Homo sapiens: one gene and its partner. The protein of the gene in region 2 purifies or fractionates together with the protein of the main gene of each other region. This does not show direct contact. Each region holds a gene or a part of one and is shown on either strand. Other genes may lie near its edges.

Region 1 (4,019 bases), on a different chromosome or scaffold from region 2:
GACTGAATGAAAACAGGGAGAGGTTAATGGGTCTGGGAGCTCTTAAACCCTAGGCCTGGTTTCTGACACACCATCAGCAGACCCACCTGGTGGACAGGGGCGGTAGGGAGTTCTGCCCTAGGAGGACCACCAGATTGCCCGGGGCAGCTCCTGCCTTTGGCCCCCATGTCTGCCCTCTCCCCACTGCCCACCGCAGTCTCAGACTCTTAAGGGTACCTCTGTGAGGGGTCGAGGCCGTTTCTCCACTGCAAACTCCGTGTGGCACAGCTCGCAGTAGCTGGTGTTAGATGAGGAAAGCCACTTCTCCAGACAGCTCTTATGCACGGCACCCAGCGTGCCGGTGCAGCCACACGGGGACAGCAAGCACTCCCCGTTCGCTCCCTCATGGCAGATCCGGCAGAAAGGACCATCACTGGACACAGAGATAGGACCCATGAGCAATGATTGGGCTTTCTGTCTATACCTGCTTCACTACCCACTGGATCACAAGCTCACCCTTACCCCATGCTGCCACTTAGTGAACTCCTACTCATCCTTCAATGCCCAGCTCTAAATGTCCTTCCCTTTGGGAAGGAGATGCAGGGAAGGTAACCTTGCGAAGCCTTCCCAGACTCCCACAGGTGGAGTGATGTGTTCCCTTCCCAGGGACCCTGCAGCACCCTCTCAGACCCAAGATGGGCATCTGTTATACCCGCCCCCATGTCCTCTCCAAATTTCCCTAAAATACCCACCCTGATTGTCCTGCACAACTTCCCCACCCTCAACTCTTTTTTTTTTTTTTTTTTTTTTTGAGACAGAGTCTCGCTCTGTCACCCAGGCTGGAGTGCAGTGGTGCGATCTCGGCTCACTGCAAGCTCCGCCTCCCGGGTTCACGCCATTCTCCCACCTCAGCCTCCCGAGTAGCTGGAACTACAGGCACCTGCCACCACGCCCGGCTAATTGTGTTTTTGTATTTTTAGTAGAGACGGGGTTTCACCGTGTTAGCCAGGATGGTCTCGATCTCCTGATATTGTGATCCGCCTGCCTCAGGCTCCCAAAGTGCTGGGATTACAGGCGTGAGCCACCGCACCCGGCCCCCAATCCTCGACTCTTAATCCTCAAAGACCAGCTGGGTGAGGTGGCTCATTCCTGTAATCCCAGTACTTTGGGAGGCCAAGGCAGGAGGATCATGAGGTCAGGATTTCAAGACCAGCCTGGCCAACATGGTGAAACCCCGTCTCTACTAAAAATACAAAAATTAGCTGGGCGTGGTGGTAGGTGCCTGTAATCCCAGCTACTGGGGAGGCTGAGGCAGGAGTATCACTTCAGCCTGGAAGGCAGAGGTTACAGTGAGCCGAGATTACACCACTGCACTCCAGCCTGGGTGACAGAGTGAGGCTCCGTCTCAAAAAAAAAAAAAAATCCTCAAGGACTAGGGCAGAGCAGACAACACTCCTCATGACCTCAGGCCTCATACTGGACCAGTCAGAACACCAGGCCGGGAGCAGTAGCTCATGCTTGTAATTCTAGCACTTTGGAAGGCTGAAGCGGGAGGATCACTTGAGCCGAGGAGTTCAAGGCCAGTGTGGGCAACCTAGTGAGATCTCATCTCTATAAAAAAAAAATTTTCTTTTTTTTTTTTTGAGATGGAGTCTCGCTCTGTCATCAGGCTGGAGTGCAGTGGTGTGATATCAGCTCACTGCAACCTCCACCTCCCAGGTTCAAGCGATTATCCTGCCTCAGCCTCCCGAGTAGCCTCAGCCTCCCGAGTAGCTGAGACTACAGGCACATGCCACCATGCCCAGCTAATTTTTTTTTTTTCTGTATTTTAGTAGAGACGGGGTTTCACCGTGTTAGCCAGGATGGTCTCAATCTCCTGACCTCGTGATCTGCCCGCCTCAGCCTCCCAAAGTGCTGGGATTACAGGCGTGAGCCACCACGCCCGGTCCCAAAATTTTTTTTAAAGACTTATCTTGGCGTGGTGGTACATGTTGTGGTCCCAGCTACTTGGGAGGCTGAGGCAGGAGGATCACATGTGCCCAGGAGTTCAAAGCTCCAATGACCCATAATTGTACCACTATACTCCAGCTTGGACAACAGAGTGAGACCATTTGAAAAAAAGAAAAAGAAAATAGAACAGCACGCACCCCTGCTCATGCAACCAACTCAGGCTTGTATGATACCATCAGAGTCACCGATAATCTATTCCTAAAATTCTTTGTTTCCCCGTAAACTCCAGAACTGTCGGCCACAAGGCTGACAGAAGCCTGGAGCTCCTGCAGCTGCCTAGTCTGTGTGGAGCCTGTGAATGATGCCAGCACAGAGGAGAGCAGAGCCAAGAGACAGGGAAAGGTAGATTTTTTTTTTTCTTTTTTTTGAGACAGTGTTGCTCTGTCACCCAGGCTGGAGTGCAGTGGCGCGATCTCGGCTCACTGCAAGCTCGACCTCCCAGGTTCATGCCATTCTCCTGCCTCAGCCTCCAGAGTAGCTAGGACTACAGGCGCCGGCCACCACGCCCGGCTAATTTTTTGTATTTTTTGTAGAGACGGGGTTTCACCGTGTTAGCCAGGATGGTCTCGATCTCCTGACCTCGTGATCCACCCGCCTCGGCCTCCCAAAGTGCTGGGATTACAGGCGTGAGCCACTGCGCAAGGCCTGGGAAAGGTAGATTCTTAAGGACATCTTTGCGGGCCCCTGGATCTAATCACACCTGAAGCCCGTGCTACCTGAGAAACCTGTGCATCCAGAGAGAAGTGCTCACCTGCTCCTCTGCCCTTGTGAGGGGGAAATAGAAATAAAAAGCATCTGCAGAAAGCTGCCTCGGAAAAGTCTCCAGCCCTGGCCCAGTCTCTGGGGATGCCGGGTCCTTCCCAGGGCAGCTCAGGAGGCAGGGGGCGTGGCCCAGAGGCCAAACAGCCATGAGTCACTGTTTCCCAAACATTTCTGGCCAGAAGGCAGACTGTGAGGTCACACAAAGAAGAGCTATTTTCCAGACAACGCCAATTTCCTCTCAGAGAGACTGTATTTTTTTTTCTTTCTTTTTTTTTTTTTTTTTTGAGTCACCCAGGCTGGAGTGCAGTGGTGCAATCACAGCTCACTGCAGCCTCGGACTCCCTAGCTCGAGCGATCCTCCTGCCTCAGTCTCCCGAGTAGCTGGGACTACAGGTGGCACCACGCCACACAGCTAATATTTTTTAACTTTTTCTAGAGAGGGGGGTCTCACTATGTTGACCAGGCTGGTCTTGAGCTTCTGGGCTCAAGCGATCCTTCAGCCTTGGACTTCCAAAGTGCTGGGACTACAGGCATGAGCGACCACGCCTGCCTGGAAATGACTGTTTTCTATCCTTTTCTCAGATTCTCATGCTGCGGGGTGGAGTTGGGCGGCTTTAAAAAGAGCCCAACAGGCTGCTCATGGCTGCTTTCTCAACAGTCCTGTCCCTGGACTGCTATTTCCTCCTGCAATGGCAAAAGGGCATGCCTGCCTGCCTCCTTTCTGAACCCATACCCCGATCCCACCCTCCCCCAAGTACACACACAAACAAAGTTAACAAAAAAGGAACCCTTTGTCCGGAAACCAACCCAGGGAAACAGAAGTGACGAGAATCTTGAGGAAGAATCATGTCAGTTTGGAGCTTGTTCTGGGAAACTGTGAAAAAGTTTGGGAGAGCAAATTCAGAGAAGAGGCCAGGCACAGTGGTTCATGCCTGTAATCCCAACACTTTGGGAGGCCGAGGTGGGTGGGTCATCTGAGGTCAGGAGACCAGCCTGACTAACATGGTGAAACCCCGTCTCTACTAAAAAAATACAAAAATTAGTCGGGCATGGTCGGGGCGGGGGGGCTGTAATCCTAGCTACTTGGGAGGCTGAGGCAGGAGAATCGCTTGAACCCAGGAGGCAGAGGTTGCAGTGAGCTGAGATCATGCCACTGCACTCCAGCATGGGTGACAAAGTGAGACTCTGTCTCCAAAACAACAAAACAAAACAAAAAAACAAATTCAGAGAAGAGAGGAAAAAAAAAGCCTTAATATTTGTTGAGCACG
Region 2 (3,500 bases):
TGAGATCTCACTATGTTGCTCAGTCTGGTCTCAAACTCCTGGTCTCAAGCAATCCTCCTTCTTTGGCCTCCCAAAGTGCTGGGATTACAGGTGTGAGCCACTGTGCCAGCCAAATATAAGATGTTAACAGAGGAAACTGAGTGAGCCATATATAGGAATTCTATGTAATATCTTTGCAACTTTTCTATAAATCTACAACTATTCAAAAATCTAAAATTTTATTTTTTTTAATGATCTGAGGCCTGCCAATAGCCATGGGAGTGAGCTTTTAAGCAGATCCTACCCTAGTTGACCCTTGAGATAACTGAAGCTCCAGCTGACATTTTAATTATACCCTTATAAGAGACCCTAGGCTGGGCATGGTGGCTCACGCCTGTAATCCCAGCACTTTGGGAGGCCAAAGTGGGTGGATCACATGAAGTCAGGGGTTCAAGACCAGGTGGGCCAACATTGGGAAAACCCGTCTCTACTAAAAATACAAAAATTAGCCAGGCTTCGTGGAGCATACCTGTAATCCCAGCTACTCAGGAGGCTGAGGCTGGAGAACAGCTTGAACCCATGAGGCAGAGGTTGCAGTGAGCTGAGCACACCACTGCACTCCAGCCTGAGGGACAGAGTGAGATTCCATCTCAAAAAAGAAGAAAAAGAGATCCTGGGCTAGAAGCATCCAGCTAAGCTGCCCCAAGATTTCTGATCCACAGAAATTATGAAATAATAAAAGTTTGTTGTTTTAAGCTGTTAAGTTTTGGAGCAATTTGTTACACAGCAATAATAACTAATAGAGTATACTTCCTTTTATGTAGAATATTCAGAAGTATCCCCCACAAAAACACTGGGATAATTTGCATTCCATTTGTTTGATAGTTATATTCTTCACTGTAAATAATAAATTCTCATTCTAGTTTTTACAACAGATTCCACAGCAAATTTACTTAGCCTGAGGCCATCCCAAAAAACTTATTTTGAAGTATAAAAGCAAAATATATGTCAATGAATGCCAAATCTACATTCCTATCCAGATTAATTTCCTACTAGACACATTCACTCGGACAGTACATGGCATCTCAAAATCAACACACCCGATATTCCTGTATTTCCTATGTCAGTTAAAATTCTCAGCATCCAACCCTAAGCCAAAAATAATTCATCCTTGACTTCTTTTCACTCACCCATGCACAGCCTTTCTACTCAAGCACTAAACCCTGCTGATAAATAGCTCCTAATTTTCTTTTTTTTTTTTGAGATAGAGCTGGGACCACAGGTGTGCGCCACCATGCCTCGCTCTGTTGCCAGGCTGGAGTGCAGTGGCACGATCTGGGCTCACTGCAACCTCTGCCTCCTGGGTTCAAGCGATTCTCCTGCCTCAGCCTCTCAAGTAGCTGGGACTACAGGTGCGCGCCACCATGCCCAGCTAATTTTTGTATTTTTTGTAGAGATGAGGTTTCACCATGTTGGCCAGGATGGTCTCGATCTCTTGACCTCATGATCTGCCCACCTTGGCCTCCCAAAGTGCTGAGATTACAGGTGTGAGCCACTGTGCCCAGCCAAATATTTCTTAAAGAGAGCCTCCTGTATCTATCCCTAATACCATTGCTCTAGTTTAAGTATTCATCATCTCTACTGGTCCTTCTCCTAGTCTTCTCTCTTCTTACCCTCCCAATATCTACCCTCCACACTTTATTTATTTATTTATTTATTTATTTATTTAGAGACAGGGTGTCACTCGCCCAGACTGGAGTGCAGTGGCACAATCTCAGCTCACCACAACCTCTGCCTCACAGGCTCAAACGATTCTCCTGCCTCAGCCTCCCAAGTAGCTGAGATTACAGGCATGTGCCACTATTGCCCGGCTAATTTTTGTATTTTTAGTACAGACAGGGTCTCACCATGTTGGCCAGGCTGGTCTTGAACTCCTGACCTCAAATGATCCACATGCCTTGGCCTCCCAAAGTGCTGGGATTACAGGCGTGAGCCATCATGCCCAGCCAACTCTCCACACTTTAATCAGAACTATCTAATTAAAACACTACATCTGGGCTAGGTGCAGTTGCTCACACCTGTAATCCCAGAACTTTGGGAGGCCGAGACAGGCAGATCACGAGGTCAGGAGTTCAAGACCAGCCTGGCCAACATGGTGAAACCCTGTTTCTACTGAAAATACAAAAAGTAGCCAGGTGCGGTGGCAGGCACCTGTAATCCCAGCGACTCGGGAGGCTGAGGCAGGAGAATTGCTTGAACCCGGGAGGCGGAAGTTGCAGTGAGCTGAGACTGTGCCACTGCACTCCAGACTGGGTGACAAAACAAGACTCCGTCTCAGGGAAAACAACAAAACAAAACAAAAACCCACTACATTGGCCGGGAATGGCGGCTCATGCCTGTAATCCCAGCACTTTGTGTGGCCAAGAGAGGTGGATCACTTGAGGTGAGGAGTTTGAGACCAGCCTGGCCAACATGGTGAAACCCCGTGTCTACCTAAAAATACAAAAATTAGCCAGGCGTGGTGGTGTATGCCTGTAGTCCCAGCTACTCAGGAGGCTAAGGCAGGAGAATCACCTGAACCTGGGAGGCAAAGATTGCAATGAGCTGAGATCACGCCACTGCCCTCAAGCCTGGGAAACACAGTGAGACTGCATCTCAAAAACAATACAAAAAAACCCAAAAAGCACTACATTGATCATCAATCTTAAAAGCCAAGCTCCATAGGGTAGCACACAAACTTCTCCAAGATCTGGTTCCTACCTACTTCCTTATTTTACAATGTTTCACCTGCTTAGAGTTTCCACTTCTGCCGTTATTTTGTACATCCATGCCTTGGATCTTACTGCGTCCTCAACTGTAAATGCTTTTCCTATTTTTCATTGCCCCACTAAATTTTACTTATCCTCCAACACTTAACTCATGAGTTGTCTCCTTCAGAAAGCTTTCTCTGAAGCCCTAGACTGTGTGAATGGCCAGATTCTGTGCTCCCCAAACACTCTGTGCTTACCCTATTTTGTCACTTGCTACAGTTTAATGTAATTTATCTATGTAATGGAATGTATCTGTATGCTCTTGAAAGTCAGGGACAGGTTCACTTTATGTACGTGCATTTTTTTTTTAGCTCATCCAACATTATAGAATGTACTTGATTTTTCTGTTTTGTTTTGTTTTTGTTTTTTGAGATGGAGTCTTACTCTGTTGCCGAGGTTGGAGCACAGTGGCGCAATTTCGGCTCATTGCAACCTCCGCCTCCTGAGTAGCTGGGATTACAGGCATGCAGTATCATGCCCGGTTAATTATTTTTGTATTTTTAGTAGAGACGTGGTCTCACCATGTTGCCCAGGCTGATCTTGAACTCCTGATCTCAAGTGATCCGCCAGCTTCGGCCTACTAGAGTGCTGGGATTACAGGCATGAGCCACTGTGCCAAGCTGTACTTGTATTTTTTATGGATGGATGGAAACATATACTGACCTACTAGGAATTCAGTAATGCTCTCAAATCAATTTCCATTTATTAATA

The links.
Region 1: the proteins of PBLD (region 2) and MARCHF2 purify together in Homo sapiens (affinity purification with western blotting, with the first as the bait; one study listed by BioGRID). This does not show direct contact.

The regions. Positions count from the first base shown.
Region 1 is NC_000019.10:8,423,002-8,427,020, reverse strand, and holds part of MARCHF2 (E3 ubiquitin-protein ligase MARCHF2), read right to left. Parts: intron 413-4,019; coding exon 217-412; intron 1-216. UniProt on the Homo sapiens protein: E3 ubiquitin-protein ligase that may mediate ubiquitination of TFRC and CD86, and promote their subsequent endocytosis and sorting to lysosomes via multivesicular bodies.
Region 2 is NC_000010.11:68,322,929-68,326,428, forward strand, and holds part of PBLD (phenazine biosynthesis-like domain-containing protein), read right to left. Parts: intron 1-3,500.